Homo sapiens: one gene and its partners. The protein of the gene in region 1 purifies or fractionates together with the protein of each later gene. This does not show direct contact. Each region holds a gene or a part of one and is shown in the gene's direction. Other genes may lie near its edges.

Region 1 (3,500 bases):
TCTCAAACAAACAAACAAACAAAACATAGTAATGTAGGGCAAATACCTAAAAGTGGTATTTACACCTGTTATCTGTAACTGGAAGTTATAAGCATTGCTTATATTTCCTCAGATAAACCCCACCTTGGTCATGGTACCTTATCTTTTTATATATTCCCAGCTTAATTTAGTAATATTTTATTAAAAATATTTGTACTTGTGGCAAAGAGGAATATGATCTGTAGTTTTCATTCCTCGTATTGGTTTTTGGTATTAGGGTAATGTTGACCTTATGAAGTGAAAATGTAAAATGAAAGATTATCATCTGTAATTCCACTATCCTAATTCAACCACTGGTTAAGAAGATTACAGTTTAATTTACCATTTCTCTGTTGTTGAATATGCAATCAGATTTCTAATCTTTCACTACAGTGGACTTATAACATTGAAAAAAAAATAGGACAGATCTCAAACCCACAAATAACAAGCTTTTCTTAAATTTCTTCATTTTCATGAGCAGCCAAGTAATTGGCTTGCCTTTTTAGGGCCTTTTAATTTTAAAAACTTTTAAAACAGAGGTGTGTTTTTCATCTCTCCCAGCCTAGAAATGTTTCCAAGCATGTCAGGACTAGTAGAGAACAACCAGGCCACAATGAGAAGCTGATGCCTAGCATTCAGGCTTAACTCACTAGTTAGTTACGTGACTTCCTTGCTCACACAGCAACTCTACATGTGCTGTAGATCAACCTGTGGTTCTCTCACAAGCTGTTAAAACTACCAGTGTCAAAACCTCAAATGTTAAATCCCAGATGCCAAGTATCTGGGATGTTATAAATAACCTATAGCTTTTTCCATATTTTGAATTATTTTCATAGGATAGTTTCCCAGAAATAGAGTTACTAAGAAAGGGCATGAATACTTTTTGTGTCTTGAAGTTATTGCCAAATTGCTTTCTGGAAGTGTTGTACCAGCTTATAATACCTTCAACAATCAGTAAGAGTGTCAGTTTCACGGAATTATCGTCAACATTGGGTATATATTTTTTACTTTTAATTGAATAGGGGAAAATTGATATTTTAATGTATGAGTTTCAAAGGTCTTAAACTGTAATATTTTGAAGGCCCCTAATGAGGTATTGTTATCTGTGAATCCTTATGTACATGCACGCATGCACATGCAAGTGTAAAGGGTTTTTCTGTGTGCTATACATATAAGATCATTGAGCAATCTTTCTGTACCTCAGTTTATTCATATGGAAATTGGAACTAATAATACCACTTTCTTGCTTAGAGATACTTACAAACGTTATAAACTACAAAGTACTTTCATGACGTGTATTTCAGTGAATTTATGTCTTAAGAAATGTGTGTTTTCTGTAACAGTTACCCTGAACCTCAGGACTTTTTTGATGTTATGCTTCAGTAAACCACGGAGGGTCAGTATGAGATTATACCGTATCATTCATTGGTTCTGTGGCTTGACTCTCCAAAATATTAACCTCTTCAGGAAAATAAGTACTCTTAATCACTAACATTTATTGTGGTTTGGTTTGATTTTTCAGAAGAAATTCTAGTTTAGACTATTTAAACGTTCTACCTTTTTACATTGGGTTATACAGTATAGTAACATGAGGAGTTTAATTTCTTAAGGGTAAGTATTAAGGGAACTGATAACAGGTTTGTGGGCATAACAACTGGAATGAGCTACTCTTTCTATCAATATTTTAGTTCCTATGGAAATGTAATAATACAATTTTATTAATTAGGATTATAAATAAGTAAAAATGTTGAATTATAAAATTTTTAAAGAAAGTTATACTTAATTATTTTGATGTATGTGAAGTTGTATTTCCTATCTCAATGCGTTGCTAAAGGTATCCTGCCAACTTACTAAGGAGTAGATAAGGTGATGCATATAATTAGCCAGTTGGGCCTTCATCAAGAAATGTACCTCGTTGAGGAATTTCTAATACACGTATAAATGAAGTGTAATCAGTTTTAACTCTTTATATAACTTCCCCTGTATTAATAGTCCAGTTAATCTACATAATATTTTTTGTAGATAATGCAAGCTGAATATAAACAATATATATGAAATTCCATCCAGAAATAAATAATGGCATGTTTGTTTATAATCTTAAATTTTTGATTATGGTAAAAGTCCTGTTTTTCTTAGCTATCTCTGGCCTAATAGATATTAGTGAAATGGATAGCTGGTCTTTTTTCTACTCAGCACTCTACAGAACCCCAACTTCTCTTCCTTACTCCATCAAATACTTACTGAATACCTACTCTGTGCCGGGAATTATTCTATACACTGTGTGAACAAAACATAAAAATCCCTGAACTCACAGATCTTATACTCCGGTGAAGGAGAAACTAAACAGATGACAGATATATAAGAAACATATTTGACCAGGAACTAAAGAAAGTAGAGGTCAGGGAGTGAGCCTGGCCCAGGAAGACTGTGTGAGCAGAGGAAGTAGCATAGGAGTATCCTTGAAGCTATACTTTGTCTCTTGTGTTTGAGGAATCCAAGGAGAACAGTATGACTACAGTGGAGGACAGAAGTAACTGAGATCAGAGAGGTAGTTTGGGGCCAGACATGAAAGCCTTGTAGGCCATTATAAAGACATGAATTTCTGTGACTGAGATGAGAAACCACTGGAGAGTTTTGAGCTCAGGAGCAGTCAAATCTGACTTTTATATTTAACAGGATCATTCTTGCTGCTATAGATAAGTAGATTAAAGTGGGGGGCAAGGACCAAATTGGGGAGATCAATCAAATGGCTGTTGGAGTAATTTTCAGATAATGAAGCTTGTGGATGGAACATGTTTGCAAGGGAGCATCAAGAATTTTTTTTTTCATACATTAAGTTCAAGATGCCCATTGATACCTAAATAGACATGCCAAGGAATCAGTTGGTTATACAGTTAAGAGTACAGGGCTGGTAGAGATATAAATTAGAGAATCTTCATTGTATAAATCTCTGAAAGTGAATAAGAACAACAAGGTAGTGAATATAGGTAAAAAAGAAAGGTTCAAAAGCTGATCCTTGGAGCACTCTAACATCTAGAGGTAGAGGACATGAGCCTGGACCATTCCGAGCAGCTGGAGAGGCTATCAGAGAAGCAGGAGGAAATTCAGAATTGCGGGGTATTCAGCCTGCCAATAAAGAAGGCATTTCAGTGAGAATATGGGTCAATAAAATACAGGCTGAGAATGACCATTGGATTTAGCAGTGTGAAGCTCACTGGTGATATTGAATGGTTTTTGTGGGATGATGGGGGATGAAAGTAGTATGGTTTGAAGGAAGAATGGGAAGAGAAGAATTAGAGACAGTAAGTAGAGGCAACTCTTTTTCTAAAATATTTGATAGAAAGTTGCAAGCACCATGACACGTAAAAAAAAGCACTTCAAAATGTAACTTCCAAAAACTAAGACATGCTTCCATTATAAGCACGTTGCCACTTTCACACCAAGGGAATTGTTAGTCTCAGACTACTAGAGAGATTAACTTA
Region 2 (3,500 bases), on another chromosome or scaffold:
CATTGCACTCCAGCCTGAGCAACAAGAGCAAAACTCCATCTCAAAACAAACAAACAAACAAAAAATGGCCCATAATCCCAGGTGATCGCTGTTCATTTAAAAAATAGAAAAGGCAATAGGAGCCCATAGTGGGAAAAAGGAAACATTGTAGAAAGTGTAAAATTAGAGAGCAAAAAATTAGGCCGGGCAAGGTGGCTTATGCCTGTAATCCCAACACTTTGGGAGGCGGAAGCAGGCGGATCACAAGGTCAGGAGTTCGAGACTAGCCTTGCCCACACAGTGAAACCGGTCTCTACTTAAAAATGCAAAATTAGCCAGGCGTGGTGGTGAGCGCCTGTAATCCCAGCTACTCAGGAGGCTGAGGCAGGAGAATCGCTTGAACCCAGGAGGCAGAGGTTGCAGTGAGCCGAGATCGTGCGATTGCACTCCAGCCTGGGCAATAGAGTGAGACTGTCTCAAAAAAAAAGAGAGCAAAAAATTATCCCTCCTGCCTGACAGTCCTTTTCTTTTTTTTTCTTTGAGACGAAGTCTCCTCTGTCGCCCAGGATGGAGCACAGTGGCGTGATCTCAGCTCACTGCAACCTCTGCCTCCCAGGTTCAAGCAGTTCTCCTGCCTCAGCATCCTGAGTAGCTGGGATTGCAGGCAGGCACCACCAGGCCCAGCTAATTTTTGTATTTTTGTATTTTTTGTAGAGACAGGGTTTCATCATGTTGGCCAGGCTGGTCTTGAACTCCTGACTTCAAGTGATCTGCCTGCCTCAGCCTCTCAAAGTGCTGGGATTACAGGCATGAGCCACTGCACCCGGCCCCTGCCAGTCCTTTTATCTTCATCCTTCATCCTTCTATCCTTCATCTCTTTAAAAACAAAAAATAAAAAAAAATTAGGCCGGGCTCTGTGTCTCACGCCTGTAATCCCAGCACTTTGGGAGACCGAGGCAGACGGATCATGAGGTCAGGAGATCGAGACCATCCTGGCCAAGATGGTGAAACCCCATCTCTACTAAAAATACAAAAATTAGCTGGGCGTGGTGGTGCGTGCCTGTAATCCCAGCTACTCAGGAGGCTGAGGCAGGAGAATCGCTGGAACCCAGGAGGCGGAGGTTGCAGTGAGCCGAGATCGCGCCACTGCACTCCAGCCTGGTGACAGAGCAAGACTCCGTCTCAAACTAATAATAATAATAATTTTTAAAAAAAGATTTTTAGTGTCTTTCTAGGCTTCAGGTGTAGTTTTGACTCGTTCTTTGCCGAGTCCTTGCTGTGTGACCCTAGTGTGGTCACTGACCCGTGCTGAGCTTTGTTTTCACAGATGAGAAGATGAGAAAGGTCACTAGCACGTGTGGCCTGCCACACAGCAGGCACCCAGTGAGGGTGGACTCAACTTCCATGAAGCATAAGAGGCATCCGTCTGTCCCAGGCCTTTGGGTGGGCACTTGGGCCTTTTGGAAGTGCCTGATGGGTTTAGGGAATTTGTCTTCTCTGGAAATCAGCTGACGGCTCATGAATTTGTGATATTTTAAAGTCTCTGGCTGGGCATTTTGGCTCATGCCTGTAATCCCAGTGCTTTGGGAGGTGGAGGAGGGAGGATTGCTTGAACCCAGGAGTTCAAGACCAGCCTGGGCAACAGTGAGATCGCGTCTCTACAAAAATTTTTTTAAAAAATTAGCTGGGCATCAGCCAGGCGCGGTGTCTCACGCCTGTAATTCCAGCACTTTGGGAGGCCGAGGCAGGCGGATCACGAGGTCAGGAGATCGAGACCATCCTGGCTAGCACAGTGAAAACATGTCTCTACTAAAAATACAAAAAATTAGCTGGGCATGGTGGTGGGCACCTGTAGTCCCAGCTGCTCGGGAGGCTGAGGCAGGAGAATGGTGTGAACCCGGGAGGCAGAGCTGGCAGTGAGCCGAGATCGCGCCACTGCACTCCAGCCTGGGCGACAGAGCGAGACTCCATTTCAAAAAAAAAAAAAAAAATTAGCTGGGCATCGTGGTGTGCACCTGTTGTCCCAATTACATGGGATCGTAGGAGGATCGCTTGAGCCCAAGAGTTTGAGGCTGCAGTGAACTATGATGGCGCCACTGCACTCCAGCCTGGGTGACAGAGTGAGACTCTAACTCAAAAAGAGAAAAAAAGTCTCTAGGGGTCAGAAGTTTTTCAGCGAGGACCTTTTTCAGGAATTGAGGGCAGCAGTGGAGGGCGCGGCTTCTCCTAAATGGACCTTGCATTCCAGTGGCCCTTGATGCTTCCCTTGCTCCTTGGGAGGGCCAAGAGTGAGAGCCGGTTGCCTGGGAGTCTTTCCTGTGGTGGGGATGTCGGAGAGTGCAGGATTAAACCTGCTGTGAGTTCTGCCCCAGCTGAGGAGTGCTTGCTGGGTACACCCTCCTCACCCTGCTGGGTGGCAGGGCAGAGAGCACAGGCCTGTGCTGCTCTGTTGGCATTAGGAGACTTTCTAGGAATGCCATTGTGCCCCCTTTCAACCTTGCTTGGGGAGAGGATGTCCTCTCCTGCCAGGACTTCCTGGCCCCGGGACCCTCCCTTTGGAAGACGAAGTGCTGCCTGGGACCAGGTGGCCCATGAGCCCCTGCCCGCACTGTGGGAGATCTGCGCATCTCTGGCAAGAGCCTCCAGGAGCCATCTAAGGAGTTTAGTTTCCCCGGGGAGCTATTCGGCCTTCCTGGTCTTTCCAGATGAGTCAAAAGCAGCTGTTGAGACCTCTGAGTTGGGGGCCAGAATGGAGGCCCAAGAGACCAATGTTCTTTCTCCTGGGCCGGCTGCTTTGAGCAGCACTGGCAGCCTGGACTCATTTGTCCTCAATCCTCAACTCTGAGAGGCCCTCTTATCTGTCTTAGGTGATATCGTTCTCAGGGTTCCTCCTGGGGCGAGGCACGCCAGGTCTGCTTGGCAACGCTGTTTTCCTCTGTCAGGAGCAGTTTGCAGAGAGAAAACTGGGGACAGGGCAGGAGACGGGCGTCCCCCAGCGGGGCCACCAGCACTGTTTGCCCTCCCCAGCCCTGGCTCCCTAGGAATTCCAAGGAGACCCTCGCTCACTGTGCCCGTGGCCATGGCTTTGCTCAGGTCCCTTTGGGGTGGCCTTCCCCACAGCCCTGCCTCTCAGAGGAAACTGGCTTTGAATACTCACCCCTCTCTTCTTCCCAGGAACCACAGCGAATTCTTGAGCTAGGAGAGGCTGCTCTGGGCGTGGGGACGAGGAGGCTGCAAGGCACCTGACTCTACCCTTCAGGAATTCGGCAGAGACTGGAGCCTTCTCTCGAGACACCTGACTTAGTGTTCCCAGAGTTTGATGAGAGGGACATCTGGGCACAGGACCATATGACTGTAATAAATTATATATATGTATATATACACACACACACACACACACACTTTTTTTTTTTTTTTTTTTTTGAGACGGAGTCTTACTCTGTGGCCCAGGTTGGAGTGCAATGGCATGATTTCGGCTCACTGCAGTCTCCCCAGGTTCAAGTGATTCTCCCACCTCAGCC
Region 3 (4,125 bases), on another chromosome or scaffold:
GAAAGAGGATAACCAGGTCATTCTGGGGGTTACAAAACCTGTTTTTTTTGTTTGTTTGTTTTGTTTTGTTTTGAGACAGTTTCGCTCTGTCGTCCAGGCTAGAGTGCAGTGGCGCGATCTCCGCTCACTGCAAGCTCCGCCTCCCAGGTTCATGCCATTCTCCTGCCCCAGGCTCCCGAGTAGCCTGGGACTACAGGCGCCCGCCACCACGCCCGGCTAATTTTTTGTATTTTTAGTAGAGACGGGGTTTCACCGTGTTAGCCAGGATGGTCTCGATCTCCTGGCCTCGTGATCCACCCGCCTCGGCCTCCCAGAGTGCTGGGATTACAGGCGTGAGCCACCGCGCCCGGCCACAAAACCTGTTTTAATGGAGTTATTTCATGGGCCATGAGTTTGAGAGGATCTATCTGACCGACTCTTACCCCGAATGTTTTACCATTCCTCTTTATTTATTCATTCCACAGATAATTATGGAGCCCCTACTATGTACGAAGTCACTGGAGGAGCTGGAGATACAAGAGTGAACCAAACACAGTCCTTGCTCCCCAGAAGTTTTACAGTCTGCTCAGAGAGACTGGTCTTCCCACCAGGGTTCATAGCCTACGGGGTACTTTGTTAAAAACGAGCAGTTACTACGAAGACTACAATGGGAGAAATTTTTCTGTGTATCTCCATGCCCTTTGGAGCACAGATAATTGACAGTTGGAGGCTAAAGGGGTTGGGTCGCGGGAAGGTTGTGATAAGTCCCTGATAGCCTCCCGTGCCCTTTTTTGACAGGTCTTCACTGATTCATGCATCAAATATTTACTGAACTCCGTCACTGTGCAGTGCCTAACTTTGTGCTTGAGGCAAACAAAACACAGATCTATTTCGAATGCCATTCCGAGGAAGGTAAGACATGCACGCACGTTTAATCAAATAGTAAACAAGAGTAGTAAAACAGGAAAAAGACTAAGAAGAGTTCTTGGTGGTATTAAATGTTTTGTGATATTCGACACCTTAACGTCTCTGACTTGACACCAGTACTCCCGCAGAGAGTTCTTTCCTGGGTTAGGAATTTCAGAGGACTTGGCGGACCGACTCTTGTCCCGAGTTCAGATCACTCGACCCAGTCCTAGCAAAGAACTGAACCTAAGAGGACCTGCCGAGCCACCGTAGGGACTGTCGGCCAACCCGCGCGCGCACATCTTCCACCCGTGGACTCGTCAGGGCGTGAGGACCCACCTCACGTGACCATTAGCAGCCTCCCGATTGGTTTTGCTCCTTTTTTCTCCCCAATGAGTGGGCTGATGCCCCGAGAAGGTCGGGCGCATGCGCAGTGCTCGGATTTTTTGCTTGGCTACCCGGAGTGAAGCGGCCGGGTTGGGCGATTAACAGGCCGTGGTTAGGAAGGACGGAGAAGGGGCGTTCGCTCCTTTGGGACTTTTCATGCCTCGTTTTTTTTTCAGATGTGGCTTGGTCTGGGCGCAAGGTCCCAGCAGCCAGCTTAAGCTTACTCTTCTGTGAAAGGGGAAAGTATCCCCTGTGGAAAGCGGTTAAACTTGTGGAGGGGGTGCGGGACGTGAGTTCTTCCCCATGCCAGGCGAATGGTGTGGCCTTGAGCTGGTCCAGGAGCCGGCTCGACGTGTCTGAGGGAGGCCCCGGAGGGGGCGGGGAGGTGGCCCACAGAACGCGGGTTCTGTAAAGAGACGTTGGGAAGATTCGATTCCGAGAAGAGGAAGAACCGGATTGAAAGAGAGCCAGGCCGCTGAGGGGGAGGGGGCTGCTAAGATGGCGTCGGCCTCCTCCGGGCCGTCGTCTTCGGTCGGTTTTTCATCCTTTGATCCCGCGGTCCCTTCCTGTACCTTGTCCTCAGGTAAGCCCGGCAGGGCGTGGGTAGGGAGCTGGTGAGGAATATGCGATGGGAGGAAGAGCGAGACCTAAGAGGGTACCTGTAGCTGGGAATGTCCTACGTGTTACCGGTAAGTGGGCGCGAGCTGGGCTTTCAAATAGGGATTTATGAGCGGGCAGGAGTTTGAGGAAAGGATAAGTTTGATTAAGAAGTTGTCGAAAACTTTGGTTGTCTTTGAGGAGGACGGATGGAGATTGAAGGTGGGGGTAGGGTGGCCCGGCGCGGTGGCTCACGCCTGTAATCTCAGCACTTTGGGAGGCCTTGGCGGGCGGATCATTTGAGGTCAGAAGTTCGAGACGAGCCTGGCCAACATAGAGAAATCTCGTCCCTACTAAAAATACAAAAATTATCCGGACAGTAGTGGCGTGCATCTGTAATCCCAGCTACTTGGGAGGCTGAGGCAGGATAATCCCTTGAGCCTGGGAGGCAGAGCTTGCGGTGAGCCGAGATTGGGCCACTGCTCTCCAGTCTGGGCGAGAGAGTGAGACCCTGTCTCAAAAAAAAAAAAAAAGAAGTTGCGGTAGGAAACAAGAGAAACGGAAGGGAGTAGAGAAACTAAGAAAGTAAATGGAGGCCTAAGAAGTAGAGAGAACTACTTAGTGTGAGAGGCAGGTGGAATCTAAGTTGATTGTGGGCTAATTGGATGAAAATGTTGAAGAGAAGCCATGGGACTTAAAAGATATCGAAAAGTTATTGGACGCTTTCGATTTCTGGAGAGGTAGGGAATCGTGAATTTTGTTGGGTGGGCGGGAGTTGTTGAAGCCATCTTTTCCCTCAGATACTCCCCCCTAATGTGTCACCCCTTCTCACTTCGCACCCCCACCCTTAGGGCCGCACAGGCACACAGACACACATACATACTTTCTCAGACTAATTCCTTTGGTGATTCCCAACTCTAAACTGCCCAACTTTGGGAAGGAATGGAAATTTTGAAGAGAGTCTAAGGAATGTAGGAAATTAAGGTCAAAGACCTTAAAAACAGATGGGAAAGATGGAATGGAGTCTTGAATTGCAGTAGAGACTGCGAGAAGTGATGTTTTGGAAATTAGGCCTGAGAAGAAGAAAGATGGGTGGGGGGGTGACTGTAAGTGTTGTGGGGGAGTATTGCATAATAGAAAAATGGACTGGAAGAATGCTTACGCTGTATCAGGAGATTGGAATTTGGAGAATGGAGCCAGGTTAATGTAGAGAGCTCAGCGTATTAATAGTTAAAAACGAATGAAGATTGAGGGAGGGCTGAGGAGGCTCACAAGAAAAGCAGTAGATTGTGTGTAGGGGAGAAAGTGTGTGTATGTGTGTCGGGTGGGGGGGCGGGAGGTGAGTCAGAAACTGAGCGCTTCCATCAGAAGTGTCTGGTGTTTCACAGTAACTGCTGCTTCTACACTGGAATAGACGCTGCCAGATGTTGGATGCTTTGCTTGAGATTTTGGTATTTCCTCAGGCCTGGTGTTGCGTTTTTGCTGTTTAGAATTTGCTGAATAGGGTTCCTTCCACCTTTCACATTCCAGCTCAGATGCTGAAATATCTAGTCACACATATCTTCTTAATAAGCTGCAGTTTTATTTATTTTTAATAAATCTCTATTTTTAGTTTGTTGAGAGGGGATTTTTTACCTTTCCTATAAAAGTATTAGGGGACCAGAACAACTCATGCTGCATTATAAGCATGAAATAGGATAAAGTAAAAGTGACAGGGTATTTATTTATTTATTTATTTATTTATTTATTTTTGAGACGGAGTCTCGCTCTGTCGCCCAGGCTGGAGTGCAGTGGGGCCATCTCGGCTCACTGCAAGCTCTGCCTCCCGGGTTCACGCCATTCTTTTGCCTCAGCCTCCCGAGTAGCTGGGACTACAGGCGCCCACCACCACGCCTGGCTAATTTTGTTTTTTGTATTTTTAGTAGAGACGGGGTTTCACCGTGTTAGCCAGGATGGTCTCGATCTCCTGACCCTGTGATCCGCCCGCCTTGGCTTCCCAAAGTGCTGGGATTATAGGCGTGAGCCACCGTGCCCCACCTGGGTTTTTATTTTTAATAGAGTAGCTCCTTAATTTGAAACCTGCTTCCCCTCTAATCCCCAACCCAGAAAGAAGAAGGGTTGTGTATGGTCCATAAACAAACTTCTCAACTATTAAGTCAGGTGTTTGCTTTGTACTCTTTGGTATTTTTGTAGGTCTTTATGTTTTCTGTCAGATCCTCTCACTAACAGTTAATAATACAGATTGTATAAATGTTT
Region 4 (3,500 bases), on another chromosome or scaffold:
CCTCATACTTTGTTTATATACTTTGATTATTTTATATACACTCTGTTGGGAACCTCTGCTACTACCTTCCCCTTTTTTAAAAACAATGTATCTTGGAGGTTGTTTGGAATCAGTAGGAAGTACATTGCCTTGTTCATTTTAACACAGCATTGTATCCCATTGTGTGTATTGCATAATTGATTTAACAAGTTCCTGTGTGATGGATAATTATAGTTTGTTTTCACATTTTTGCTGTTGTAGTTTTGCAGTGTCATTCTACTTATCTTTGCATGTATATGTGAGTATATCTGTCCCATAAATTCTTAGAAGTGGAATTGCAGAGTTAACAAATAGATGTATCCACCAGAAACACTGCATCAGTAGGAAGTACTTTGCCTTGTTCATTGTAACACAGCATAGTAGCCCATCATACATTGTAGGGATGCCCCATGATCAATTTGACATGTTACTGTGTGGGCATTTAGTACATTGTTTGCATGCTTTTGCTGTTAAGTGCTGCAGTAAAAGTCATTCTTCCCTGGCTGCAAGGAAGTTTGATAAAACCTTTACCAATAAGAAAGACACGCCACAAACTTAGGAAAAGGATTCAAATTTTGGGCCACCAGAAATATACAGCTATGTACTGTAACCATTGTGGCAACAAATGTATTTAGGCCGTAGATCTATGATAAATGTGTAGGCATGTATCAATTTTTTTTTTTTTTTTGAGACTGAGTCTCACTCTGTGGCTGGGGCTGGAGTGCAGTGGCGCGATCTTGGCACACTGCAAGCTCTGCCTCCTGGGTTCACGCCATTCTGCTGCCTCAGCCTCCCGAGTAGCTGGGACTACAGGTGCCCGACACCACGCCCAGCTAATTTTGTTTTTGTATTTTTATTAGAGACAGGGTTTCACCATGTTAGCCAGTATGGTCTCGATCTCCTGACCTCGTGATTCACCCACCTTGGGCTCCCAAAGTGCTGGGATTACAGATGTGAGCCACCACGCCCAGCCAGGCATGTATCTATTTTTAACTGGAAAATTGAATAGCTTGTGAATTAGTAATGATTTGGGTCATTTAGTACCAACTGTCTCATAAAGGGAACAAAATTTTTTTAAAGTTATTCTACTTTGCGATGCCTTCCAGCAAGGTATGAGACTTTTCTCTTTTTGTAAATTTGTCTCTTCGTGTACGTTGTACCCTTATTGTATTACATTGTTCCCTTATCATATTACGTTCTTCTGTTTCTTCTTAATTTATTAAACCTCATATATTGAGGAAATTAGCTCTATGTCTGCCATATTATGTTTACAAATATGTTTCCAGATTGTCATATGTCACTTGTCTTATTTATTTACTTTTTGGCCTTCTGCGCATTACGTTTTTTTAAAATTCTAGGCTGGGTGCAGTGGCTCACTTCTGTAATCCCAACACTTTGGGAGGCGGAGGCGGGCTGACCACTTGAGGTCGGGAGTTTGAGACCAGCCTGGCCAACATGGTGAAACTCCGTCTCTACTAAAAATATAAAAAAATTAGCCAGATATGGTGGTGCACGCCTGTAATCCCAGCTATTTGGGAGGCTGAGGCAGGAAAATCGCTTGAACCCAGGAGGTGGAGGTTGCAGTGAGCTGAGATCATGCCTCTGCATTCCAGCCTGGGTGACAGAGCAAGACTCTGTCTCAAAAAAAAAAAAAAAAAGAAAAAAAACAACTTCCATGTTTTCTTATTTGTAGTTTCAATTTGTTATATTAAAATCTTTGACCCTGTGAAATTTTATTTGGTATAAGGAGTGAATAGGGAACTAAAATTTTTTTCAGATGTCTGAATAATTGTCTTAATAACATAATTGTCTTAATACCATATGTTGGTGTTTTATCTTATGTTGACTAATTGTCTTAATACCATATGTTGATAATCCGTGTTTTCTCTATTGGACTTTAACGCAACTTTAATTGTATACTTATTTTCCATATACATTCAAGTCTGTCTCTGGACCTCTTCTATTCTGTTTCTGTATTTGTACACCAATACTAGCTTGTTTTAAATACTATGGCCTTATATGTTATAAAATCCAGTAGAGTGGAGAGGCATACCAATATTTTAGGCAACTCAATGTTTTCTCCCTACAGTGATCTACAGAATCATTGCAATCCCAATTAGAATTCTAGCAGAATTTTTTTTGTAGAAATTTCTACTAAAGCTTTGGCTAACTTTCTTCAGACACTCTCATAATAAGCAGATACTACTCTTTGGCCTTCCAGAAAGTCAACAAGTGAAGTGCCTTGAGCATCCAAAAAACCTGTTGCTGTTGCCTTTGCTCTTGACTGGTCAACTTTTGCTTTGACTGGACCACTTCCACCTCTTGGTAGCCATTGGTTTAATTGTGCTTTGTCTTTATGATCAAACTGGTAAAACCATGTTTCATCTTCTGTTACAGTTCTTCAAAGAAATGCTTTAGGACCTTGATTCCACTTGTTTAAAATTTCTTTTGAAATCTCTGCTCTTGTCTGCAGCTGATTTGGGAGCAGTGGTTTTGGCACCCATCATATGGAAAATTTGCTCAACTAATTTTTCATTAAGAATTGGTGGGAAGAAGGCTGGGCGTGGTGGCTCATGCTTGTAATCCCAGCACTTTGGGATGCCGAGGTGGGTGGATCACCTGAGGTTAGGAGTTCGAAACCAGCCTGGCCAACATGGTGAAATCCCGTCTCTACTAAAAATACAAAATTAGCCGGGCGTGGTGGCGCATGCCTATAATCTCAGCTACCTGGGAGGCTGAGGCAGGAGAATCGCTTGAACCTGGGAGGCAGAGGTTGCAGTGAGCCGAGATCACGCCATTGCACTCCAGCCTGGGCAACAAGAGTGAAACTCGGTCTCAAAAACAAACAACAAAACAAAGAATTGGTAGGGAGGCCAGGAGCAGTGGCTCACCTATAATGCCAGTGCTTTGGGAAGCTGAGGTAGGAGGATCAGTTGAGGCCAGGAATTTTGAGACCAGCTTGGGCAACATAGCAAGACTCCATCTATACAAAAAATAGGGCCAGGAGCAGTGGCTCATGCCTATAATCCCAGTACTTTGGGAGGCTGAGGTGGGTGGATCACCTGAGGTTAGGAGTTCGAAACCAGCCTGGCCAACATGGTGAAACCCCGTCTCTACTAAAAATACAAAATTAGCCGGACGTGGTGGCGCATGCCTGTAATCTCACCTACCTGGGAGGCTAAGGCAGGAGAATCACTTGAACCTGGGAGGCGGAGGTTGCAGTGAGCCGAAGCCGAGATCACACCACTGCACTCCAGCCTGGGTGACACAGTAAGACTCCAAAAAGAAAAAAAAAAATTAGCTGCACGTGGTAGCACATGTCTGTAGTCCCAGCTACTTGGGAGGCTGAGACAGGAGGATTGCTTTAGCCCAAGAGTGTGAGGTTACAGTGAGCTGTGATCATGCCTGTATACTCTAGCCTGGCTGACAGAACAAAACCCTATCTTGAAAAAAATATATATGTGGTGTAAGCCAAACCATAT
Region 5 (3,500 bases), on another chromosome or scaffold:
GAAAGACATTTGATAAAATTCAATATTCATTTCTAATTTTTTTTTTCACTCCTAGCGGAATATAAATACATTTAAGCCAAAAACTGCCATCATGCATGATGCATGCATCATTCTAGAAACATCCCTTTAAGATCAGGAATAAGACAAGATGTCCAGTATTACAATTACCACTGTTGATTAACATTCTTTTAGACGCATAGGCCAGTGTAACTACAAAAGATAAAGATAAGAGATGAGGAAAACTGCCAGGTGCGGTGGCTCATGCCTGTAATCCCAACACTTTGGGAGACCAAGGCAGGAGGATTGCTTGAGCTCAGGAGTTCGAGACCAGCCTGGGCAACATGGTAAGACCTCGTCTCTACAAAAAATACAAAAATTAGTCAGGCGTGGTTGCACGCGCCTGTGGTCCCAGTTATTTGGGAGTCCAAGGTAAGAGGATTGCTTGAGCCTAGGAGGTGGAGGTTGCAGTGAGCTGAGATCACGCAACTGCTCTCCAGCCTAGGCAACTGAGCGAGACTGTCTCAAAAAAAAAAAAAAAAAAAAAAGATTAGGAATACTGCAGATGTATTTATATTCCACTAAGAGTGAAAAATGAAAGTGTTGGTATTTGGAGAGGAAACCGAATGGATAAACTGAATTGATATTAGGAAAATAAGAGAATTCTGTAAGGTAGCTGAAAAGGCTGGCATTTTATACACTGAAGTCATCATTGTTGTCTTTTAAAAGTTAGAGATAATGGCCAGGCATGGTGGCTCACGCCTGTAATCCCAGCACTTGGTGAAACCCCGTCTCTACTAAAAAATACAAAAATTAGCCGGGCGTGGTGGCACACGCCTGTAATTCCAGCTACTCGGGAGGCTGAGGCAGGAGAATTGCTCAGGAGACGGAGGTTGCAGTGAGCTGAGATCACACCACTGCACTCCAGCCTAGGCGACAGAGCGAGACTCTGCTTCAAAAAAATTTTAAAAAAAGAAGTTAGAGTAAGAATTTGAGTTTGGAGTCAAAAGGGTCAGACTCCATCAGATACTAATATTCTAATCAAAGAATTACTTGACTTGCGAATAGATAGATCACTTGAATAGAATAGAGCCCAGAAACAAACTCAAAAGCTTCTGGGGGCGTTTAGTATATTATAAACATGGCATTTTAAATTAATCAGGAAAAGAAATTGTTTGCAGCTCACCCCACCATAGGCAGCAGAAATAGGAAGTCATCGACAGAATAAAAAGATGGCAAGAACAGAATCGTAGAACAGTACGTTTCTTGCTTTCCCACTTTTTAAATTATTTTTTGCTTTTACACAAATATAAGATTTTATTTTCTAAATGTATACTAGTTATTTTATCTCTTTCTTAGATGAATGAAAAAATTGCATCTTTAGAAAAAGAGTTGTTAGAAAAAAAGCCGTGGCAGCTTCAGGGGGAAGTGACAGCACAGAAGAGGCCAGAGAACAGCCTCCTGGAGGAGACCCTACACTTTGACCATGCTGTCCGGATGGGTATGGTGCCCTCTTCTGTAGTTTTCATGTCTGTGCTTTTTCCATGGTTCCATTTCATACAAAGATTTGGGGTGGTGTTTCTTTTCCCTCAACTTTTTATTTTAAAAACTTGTAAACACATGGCTTGGCATGGTAGCTCACACCTGTAATCCCGGCACTTTGGGAGGCCGAGGCAGACGGATCACCTGAGGTCAGGAGTTTGAGACCAGCCTGGCCAACATGGTGAAACCCCGTCTCTACTAAAAATACAAAAATCAGCCAGATACGGTGGCAGATTTCAGAATCCCATCTACTCGGAAGGCTGAGGCAGGAGAATTGCTTGAACCCAGAAAGGGGAGGTTGCAGTGAGCCAAGGTTGTGCCAGTGTGCTCCAGCGTGGGCAGCCTGGGCAACAGAGCGACACTCTGTCAAAAAAGAAAAAATCAACTTATAAACACAGAAGAGTTGAAAAAATACTACAGTGAACACCTATATGCTATTCAATTGGATTCACCAGTTACCATTTTGTTATATTTGCTTTCTCTCCCTAGCATATGTAAGATTGTATATGTGCCCTTTTTTTAAGTAAGTTGCCAATCTCATGGCACTTCACTTTTAAGTACTTTTGCAGATATCGTCTAAGAACTAGGACATTCTCCTATGTAATCACAGTACCATTAATCCACCCAAAAAATTTAACAATACGCTAATGATACCTAATGTATAGTTTGTAATCAGCTTTCTTGTAGTAATCTGTTTTGAAGGCTTGCATCCTGTCATGGTCCACTGATTAAATTTTGAACTTCAACCTGAAACTGTGGTCATCTCATTGACTTCTTTCTTGTACCCATTACATCAAAATGAGTTTTCATTTTATTTCAATGGAAGAGAGAATGGAAAAGAGGGGAAGAGTCCCTGGGTACCTTGGGTAAAGTATTAGCACTTACTACCATATGTATCCTAGTTTTGTGGTTTTCAAACTTCAGGGAGCATCACAAGGCTTGTTAAAGCACAGATAGCTGTCCCTCTTCCCCACTTTCTGATTCAGGAAGTATGGGGGTGGCCCAGGAATTTGCATTTCTAACAAGTTCCCACGTGTTGCTGATGCTGTGGGTCCAAGGACTGCACTGAATCAATGGTCTAGTGGATATCTACCTAATGAATAAACGTTGTATATCCTTTAGCACCTGTGATTACAGAGGAAACCACCCTTCAACTGGAAGATATCATTAAACAGAGGATAAGAGATCAGGTCAGTAAGAATTAAATTTAACTTAATCAAAATGTCACCAAGATTTTTAGAAATAATGTGAGAGTACTTTGAGAGTAGGACTATTGCTTTTTATTTTCACTTAGTGTTCACAAACCTTAAATCTAGGCTACCTAGTCAGCTTTTGTTGTGTGAGGTACTGCTCTTCAGTAGTATCCAGGAAAGACGAGTATTGTGCCTGAGAGGAGCAAGAAGCCATTATCCTTTCTCGTGAGTCTTGCTGACCTTTTGGGCGGTGCTCAGTGAAGCTGGTGGCTGACCTGTGATGGTTGCACCCAGAACCCTTGGCTTAGGCACAGTATCTGGTGTGGTAAATTATTCAGTATATATGTCCTAGTCTTTTTTCTGTTACTTATAACAGAATATCTGAAGCTGGGTGACTTAAAAGGAATACAGTTATGGAGGCTGAGAAGTCCAAGGTCGAGGGGCCTTCTTACCAGTGGGGATTCCGCAGAGTCCCAAGGTGGTGCAGGGCATCACATGGTGAAAGGGCTGAGCATGCTAAGATGCTGGCTCAGGTGTCTCTTGCTCTTCTTAAGAGCCACCATTCCCCCACTGATGATAACCCATTAATCCATAAATGCAACTGCCATTCATGAGGGCAAAACCCTGGTGATCCAGTCACGTCCTAGAAGGCCCCACATCTGAGTGTTGCCACATCAGGGATTAAGTTTCCACATGAGTTTTGGAGGGGACATTCAAACCCTAGCATTGTGGTAGTTCTACAATTTTAAAACCATTTCTCAATGGTGT
Region 6 (3,500 bases), on another chromosome or scaffold:
CTCAGTGATAAAACCAACTATGACATTGTTGTTCGGGCAAAGCAGATGTGGGAGATTTTAAGAAGGTAATTCTACCTAAAGATGCCTTTGTTAGTCCCTTTGCAACAGTGGAGAAGTCAGTGTACCTTGTAAATAGTGAGATGTCCTAAAATAAATGACATAGCACTTGGGTTATTGAGGGGGTCCTCATGACACCCCATTAGAGACATCAGTACTTGGAAGTCTGCCCGTCACAGAAGTGTGTAGAATCATTATGATGGCATCGGATATGCTTATGAAAATGTATGAGGTTGAAATAAATTTGACATTCTTCCTGAGAGATTTCTGAGAAAATGAAGGACAATTTCTTATCAGCTAGATTTTGAGATACTTCAGTATTTGTTATCTTAGATTTGTTTTATTATTTTTTTTACTTCTGAAGTTCTGGCTGTTAAGATTTGGATTGATACCTAAAATTATACCTTTTGAGATGAGTTTCTGCCTTTGAGAAAATTACTTTTGTCTGGCTGCTCTGGAATAGTAATTTTAATGGCAGAGGTTTGCTGCCTTAGAAAAGAAAATCATGCTGAACTTGGAGAACATATACTGGTACAGTTTTTAATTTTGTGTGTTTAAAATAACTTCTTTATTTCAACTGTGTTTCCTTCCTCTCCTCATTTGTAGAAAAGACTGTGACAAAGAAAAAAGAGTAAAGTTAATGAGTGATTTGCAGAAGTTGATTCAAGGGAAAATTAAAACTGTAAGTAGCATATACTCATTGTTGCAATTTTTAACAGTTGAAGTTGCCTCACTCTCAGGAGTAGCTGACCATTCATGACAGATGATCTTATCATTGTTTCCGGTGTATTTGGCCAAAAGTTTTAAATATCTTCCATAACACTGAACTACATAAAAATTTAAAAGTGAGGGACCTTACTGCTAGGGAGTTTTGAAAAGATTATCAGTCTTTTCAGTCATTTTTTAATAATTCTTAAAATAAGCCAGTGTTTCCTTAAAGTTATCTTGAGAAGTTTATTAGTTCAGTAGTATTTTATAAATGTGTTGTTCTAAACTCCATATAATTTAGTATGTTCTCAATTGCCAACTTCTTTATATTTGTGATGTGAACATATTACTTCATTCTTTTCCTCCATGCTTTTGTAAACATCATGCGAAGATCTTTAACTAAAATATAATCATTTCAGAATTCTAAAGTAGTTTTCATTGTTGCTGCTTAATCCTGTTTTGTAATAAATTTCCTGTGACTCTTGTGTATTTGGATTAATACATAATGGCTTGGAAGACAACAGATTCTCATAGTTTTACGGCACCTGGAGGGGCAGCCTTTGTCAAGTCAGATGCATAGGTCTAACCAGATGCTATATTACAGTTTGAAGGAAAGTAGCAAGTCATCAGCTGCCGCTTTCTTATAAATTCAGCAGGATCTTTTTACGATAGGACTGCCCCCTCAGCTCCGACAATTTATAAATATTTCACTCAGGATTCTTTCTCAACTACCCTGAGGTCACAGCTGTATGACCATGGTGTTAGAAGTGAGTTTGGTATTCAAATCCTGGCTGGGCTGCTTAAAATATGTGTGCCTTTAAACAATAACAATAACTTCTTTATTGATTATTTACTATAGGCTAGGAATTGTGTTAACCAGCACATGCATTGTGTCGTTTACTGTATGTCATCATCCGTGTTGTATATTTGATGTATCTGGGACTCAGGGAAGTAAGATTCTTCCTCGGGGTAATAGAGATAGCGAGTTCCTTCTCATAACCTTACTTCCCTCATCTGTAAAGTGGGAATAGTAACAGCTCATTCTTATTGTTGCTTTGAGTTATAAATAAGAACACTATGTTTAAGGCATTTATGTTGATTATATAATAGGTGCTCAATATATGCACAAAAACAGCCTTATTTTTTTAAGAGATACTTAAGAGATGTCTTACAAATCTTGAAATTTATGACTTTGATGGAAGTATACACTCACCTGATTTGTTGGAATTCAGAAACTTTAGAGTGAGCAACAAATAAGCACTTTTGAAGTAGACTGGTACTGTGGCGTAGTGAAAATAATTTTGCATGATGGATGATTCGTGGAGGGCGCTCTAGAAAATTGGTCAGTGGGTCCTTCCAACAGTCATGAGGAGGAATGGGTTAGAGAATCAGATTCAAAACACAACAACTCTTCTAGAAATATAACTGGATATATGTGCAGGAATTATAATGAAAATGTGACAAATGGATGATTAACTTATTATATAATTGACAGTGTTTATGGACATAGTTGTATTTATTTCTTTAGGAAGACTTTTAGATTGATCTTACAGGTATACTTCTGGTTGCCAAAGCCAAACATTCTTAGATCACTTATATAAAAATCATACAGTAACAGACCTTTTAAACAGAAATATTTCCCTTTTAGGGACGGTAACTTATCAAAGAAATGAGAAGTATAGTCTGTATAATCATCAGATGGTTTGGTTTGCTTTGGTTTTAATTGCAATGAGAGGAGTCTTGCAAAATGGTTAAATTTATCCTTGCCTCAATGTCATTATTGTACCTATCAAATATGGTAGGCCTCAAAACAACAGAATGATGTTTTGTATAATTAAAACAAGTAGTTCTCAGTAATCTAGGTTTGATTTTATTCATGAAGACTACCTTTTTTTCTAACAAGAAATTCCAGAAGAGGTCACAATAAATTAGTGAGAAACATAAGTCTCAAAAGAGAATTAGTCTAACTCAAACTTTTTCCTGCAGATTGCATTTGCACACGATTCAACTCGTGTGATCCAGTGTTACATTCAGTATGGTAATGAAGAACAGAGAAAACAGGCTTTTGAAGAATTGCGAGGTATTTATTACATACTAAAGATTATGTTATCATTTGCAATAAGTCACTTGTTTTCTCTTAAAATACCCAAGACTGTCCTAGAAAACAATTTTTGTTTAGGTTTGTCTTCTCCAGATCCTTTTTTGTTTTTATTTTTTCCTTGCCTGGGACAAATTTCCTCCCTTTGTTTCCAGAGAACTGAAATGAGATCTGAAGTCACTGTAATGTATTTTTGTTTTTCAGATGATTTGGTTGAGTTAAGTAAAGCCAAATATTCGAGAAATATTGTTAAGAAATTTCTCATGTATGGGTAAGTTGTTTTATGTATAAAATACATTTTTTCTTTGTCTTTTGAAGACATGGTTTCCAACTGTGCTCAGATGCGAGATAGGAAGTCTGTGGTCTTTATAAGTAATAGTAATGGCTCTCAGCAGATGCTTGTGTTGTTTTTAGAGAGTATCATCTTAAATACAATTATCGAAATTAATGTAAAATTATGGTACTGCCTTCATTCCTAAAAAGATACATGAGAAATGTCCTGCAAATCTCCTTGAAATTTATGACTTTGATGGAGGTATACCCTCACCTTCTGATTTGTTGGCATTCAAAAGTTTTAAAGACAGAGTGAGCAACAGATAAGCACTTTTGAAGTAGACTGGTATTGTAGCATAGTAAA
Region 7 (3,284 bases), on another chromosome or scaffold:
TGCTTAAGTACGGGAGGTCAAGGCTGTAGTGAGCCATGATTGCACCACTGCACTCCAGCCGAACTGACAGAGTGAGACCCTATCTCAAAACAAAAAAATAATCTATTGTCATCCCTTGATATCCACGGTGTATTGGTTCCAGGATCCCTCTCACATAGCAAACAGTATATATATATCTGCAGATGCTGAAGTCCCTTATATAAAATGGCACATTTGCATGAATGTATATTGTTATATATAATAAATTTTTTTATTGTCATATTATTTGTTGTTTTCAAGTATTTTCTATCTGCAGTTGATTGAATCCTCTGATACTGAACTCACGGATTTGGGGAGCTGACTGTACATACTATGTGATGTCATAAATTTTTCTTCTCTCAGTAACAACCCATTACTACATTTCCTTTCAGTTTTTCCTTGTGCTGCCATTTTTATAGTTGAACTTGTCTCTGTGAACTTAAATTATATTTACATCTTATTTTATGTTGTTTTCTGTTATGTAAGCATGTTCCATTGAGTGATATAACAGAGTTTATACTGTCATTTCTCTCATGTTGGACCTTGGTAGAATTCTCTGTTTTTCCCTGTAATAATGAAATTGCAGTGGTTATGTGTTTTTTGTTTTTGAGACAGAGTCTCACTCTGTTGCTCAGGCTGGAGTGCTTTGGCACGATCTCAGCTCACTGCAGCCTCTGCCTCCCAGGCTCTAGCGATCCTCCCATCTCAGCTTCCTGAGTAGCTAGGACTACAGGTGTGTGCCACATGTCTGGCTAATTCTTGTATTTTTTTGTAGAGACAGGATTCACCATGTTTCTCAGGCTGGTCTCCAACTTCTGAGCTCAAGTGATCTATCCGCCTTGGCCTCCCAGAGTGCTAGGATTATAGGTGTGAGCTACCCCGCCTGGCCTGGTTATGTTTTTTTCCCCAAAAGTTTGGATTGTAGATTACTTAAGATAGATCCCCATTAGGATATACTAGGTTAAGATGTGTTACCATTTTGAAGACTCTTGATGAGAATTGCCTGGTAGCTTTTTTAGAAAGATTGTCACAGCGTTTGTTGCCATTGTTACTGTATTGTAGTTACCTTTCTGCTTGTCTGCTCCCTTTCTTCTATTACTTGATAAGCTTCTAAAGTCCTTTAACAAACATCTCATGGATATTCAGGGTTGTTAGCATTAATGGCTCTATATTGGAACAGAAGTATAACAGAATTTTGGATCTAAATGGAACCCTAGAGGGTGTCTAGTCCAACATCTCGTAATGGAGCGTTCCCTGCCCTCTGGTCAGCTAATACAATGGGGCTTTGACAGAAAGATGGCTATACGAAGGAGGTTTATTCGTTTAAAATATTGCATATGGGGGCCAGGCGCGGTGGCTCATGCCTGTAATCCCAGCACTTTGGGAGGGCAAGGTGGGCAGATTACAAGGTCAAGAGATCGAGACCATTCTGGCTAACGTGGTGAAACCCTGTCTCTACTAAAAATACAAAAATTAGCTGGGTATGTTGGCCCGCGCCTGTAATCCCAGCTACTTGAGAGGTTGAGGCAAGAGAATCGCTTGAACTCAGGAGGTAGAGGTCACAGTGAGCCGAGATCGTGCCACTGCACTCCAGCCTGGCAACAGAGCGAGATTCCGTCTCAAAAAAAGAAAAAAGAAAAAAAGCCAATATTGCATATGACTAATCTAGTCTAGAACCTCATTTTACAATGAAAAAAAAAAACCACGAAGCCTGTAGCATTGTGACTTAGCTGAACATTTCACAAGGCAGCTTGAGTGCTTTCTGAGGAAACACTGGTGACGAGCATGGTGATGAGGAGACTTCGAGTGCAGCAGCTGATACACCTGGGATTGGATGGGGCTTATCTGTGCAAGCTTGAAAGTCGTTCTCATCTGTTAAAGTGACACTTTCACTAGTTTCTTTGCAGATGGGTTTCTGGTAGCAATTAATGTATTGTGTTTTCTTTTGCAGAATACAGATTCTGTTCATCTTGCTCTGAAATTAAATAATTCTGAACTCATGGGGAGAAAACTCAGAGTCATGCGTTCTGTTAATAAAGAAAAATTTAAACAACAAAATTCAAATCCACGATTGAAGAATGTCAGTAAACCTAAGCAGGGACTTAATTTTACTTCCAAAACTGCAGAAGGACATCCTAAAAGCTTATTTATTGGAGAAAAAGCTGTTCTCCTTAAAACGAAGAAGAAAGGACAGAAGAAAAGTGGACGCCCTAAGAAACAGAGAAAACAGAAATAACAACCAGGAACTGCTTTTTCTTTTCCTGCTGAGTACTGCTAATAAAAGTGCTATTATCTGCTGATAGCATCGTCTGCTATTCATGTGTTGAGTTTTATACTTCTTTATGGATGGTGTATGTGAAATGTGGAGACTTCCACATTCTCAGTTTATTCACATTGTGATACTACCTTTGAAGGTTTTTTTGTTTTTGTTTTGTTTTTTGAGATGGAGTTTGGCTGTTGTCTCCCAGGCTGGAGTGCAGTGGCGTGATCTTGGCTCACTGCAACCTCTGCCTTCTGGGTTCAAGCGCTTCTCCTGCCTCAGCCTCCCAAGTAGCTGGGATTACAGGCGCCTGCCACCACGCCTGGCTAATTTTTTGTATTTTTAGTAGAGACGGGGTTTCACCATGTTGGCCAGGCTGGTCTCGAACTCCTGACCTCAGGTGATCCACCTGCCTTGGCCTCTCAAAGTGCTGGGATTACAGGCGTGAGTCACTGCACCCAAGCCTCCTTTCTCTTTTGCCTATTAAACCTCTGCTCTTAACCTTACTCCGTGTGTGCTCAAGTTCTTGATTTCCTTGGCATGAAGCAATGAACCTTGGGTATTACCCCAAACGATGTCGCTTCAGTATCTCACTTTGTTGCCCAGGCTGCTCTCAAACTGCTGGACTCAAGTGATCCTCCCACCTTGGCCTCCCAAAGTGCTAGGATTACAGGAGTGAATCACTCATCAATTCCAAGGGGCTAGAACTCCCAGGAACTGGGGACAAAGGCCAGCCAAATTCTTTATTATGCAACCTCGTGTTACTGGAAAAGGATCCAGATCCAGACCCCAACAAAGGGTTCTTGGATCTTGCCTAAGAAAGAATTTGGGGCCAGTCCACAGAGTAAAGTGAAAACAAGTTTATTAAGAAAATAAAGAAGATCACTCACGGTGGCTCATGCCTGTAATCCCAGCACTTCGGGAGGCCGAGGTGGGTGGATCACCAGATGTCAGGAGTTTGAGACTAGCCTGGCCAACATGGTGAAACCCCATCTCTACTAAAAAT

The links.
Region 2: the proteins of ESF1 (region 1) and LLGL2 purify together in Homo sapiens (co-immunoprecipitation; one large-scale study listed by IntAct). This does not show direct contact.
Region 3: the proteins of ESF1 (region 1) and PIP5K1A purify together in Homo sapiens (co-immunoprecipitation; one large-scale study listed by IntAct). This does not show direct contact.
Region 4: the proteins of ESF1 (region 1) and DDX52 fractionate together in Homo sapiens (co-fractionation; one large-scale study listed by BioGRID). This does not show direct contact.
Region 5: the proteins of ESF1 (region 1) and MPHOSPH10 fractionate together in Homo sapiens (co-fractionation; one large-scale study listed by BioGRID). This does not show direct contact.
Region 6: the proteins of ESF1 (region 1) and PUM3 fractionate together in Homo sapiens (co-fractionation; one large-scale study listed by BioGRID). This does not show direct contact.
Region 7: the proteins of ESF1 (region 1) and RBM34 purify together in Homo sapiens (co-immunoprecipitation; one large-scale study listed by IntAct). This does not show direct contact.

The regions. Positions count from the first base shown.
Region 1 is NC_000020.11:13,753,920-13,757,419, reverse strand, and holds part of ESF1 (ESF1 homolog), read left to right. Parts: intron 1-3,500. UniProt on the Homo sapiens protein: May constitute a novel regulatory system for basal transcription. Negatively regulates ABT1.
Region 2 is NC_000017.11:75,528,697-75,532,196, forward strand, and holds part of LLGL2 (LLGL scribble cell polarity complex component 2), read left to right. Parts: intron 1-2,366; exon of another isoform or gene 2,367-3,500. UniProt on the Homo sapiens protein: Part of a complex with GPSM2/LGN, PRKCI/aPKC and PARD6B/Par-6, which may ensure the correct organization and orientation of bipolar spindles for normal cell division.
Region 3 is NC_000001.11:151,197,227-151,201,351, forward strand, and holds the start of PIP5K1A (phosphatidylinositol 4-phosphate 5-kinase type-1 alpha), read left to right. Parts: upstream 1-1,325; 5' UTR 1,326-1,770; coding exon 1,771-1,855; exon of another isoform or gene 1,856-1,900; coding exon of another isoform or gene 1,901-1,961; intron 1,962-4,125. UniProt on the Homo sapiens protein: Catalyzes the phosphorylation of phosphatidylinositol 4-phosphate (PtdIns(4)P/PI4P) to form phosphatidylinositol 4,5-bisphosphate (PtdIns(4,5)P2/PIP2), a lipid second messenger that regulates several cellular processes such as signal transduction, vesicle trafficking, actin cytoskeleton dynamics, cell adhesion, and cell motility.
Region 4 is NC_000017.11:37,636,947-37,640,446, reverse strand, and holds part of DDX52 (probable ATP-dependent RNA helicase DDX52), read left to right. Parts: intron 1-878; exon of another isoform or gene 879-993; intron 994-3,500.
Region 5 is NC_000002.12:71,137,134-71,140,633, forward strand, and holds part of MPHOSPH10 (U3 small nucleolar ribonucleoprotein protein MPP10), read left to right. Parts: intron 1-1,356; coding exon 1,357-1,498; intron 1,499-2,661; coding exon 2,662-2,729; intron 2,730-3,500. UniProt on the Homo sapiens protein: Component of the 60-80S U3 small nucleolar ribonucleoprotein (U3 snoRNP). Required for the early cleavages during pre-18S ribosomal RNA processing. Part of the small subunit (SSU) processome, first precursor of the small eukaryotic ribosomal subunit.
Region 6 is NC_000009.12:2,830,596-2,834,095, reverse strand, and holds part of PUM3 (pumilio homolog 3), read left to right. Parts: coding exon 1-65; intron 66-663; coding exon 664-739; intron 740-2,751; coding exon 2,752-2,845; intron 2,846-3,067; coding exon 3,068-3,134; intron 3,135-3,500. UniProt on the Homo sapiens protein: Inhibits the poly(ADP-ribosyl)ation activity of PARP1 and the degradation of PARP1 by CASP3 following genotoxic stress. Binds to double-stranded RNA or DNA without sequence specificity. Involved in development of the eye and of primordial germ cells.
Region 7 is NC_000001.11:235,130,683-235,133,966, reverse strand, and holds the end of RBM34 (RNA-binding protein 34), read left to right. Parts: intron 1-1,969; coding exon 1,970-2,254; 3' UTR 2,255-2,784; downstream 2,785-3,284.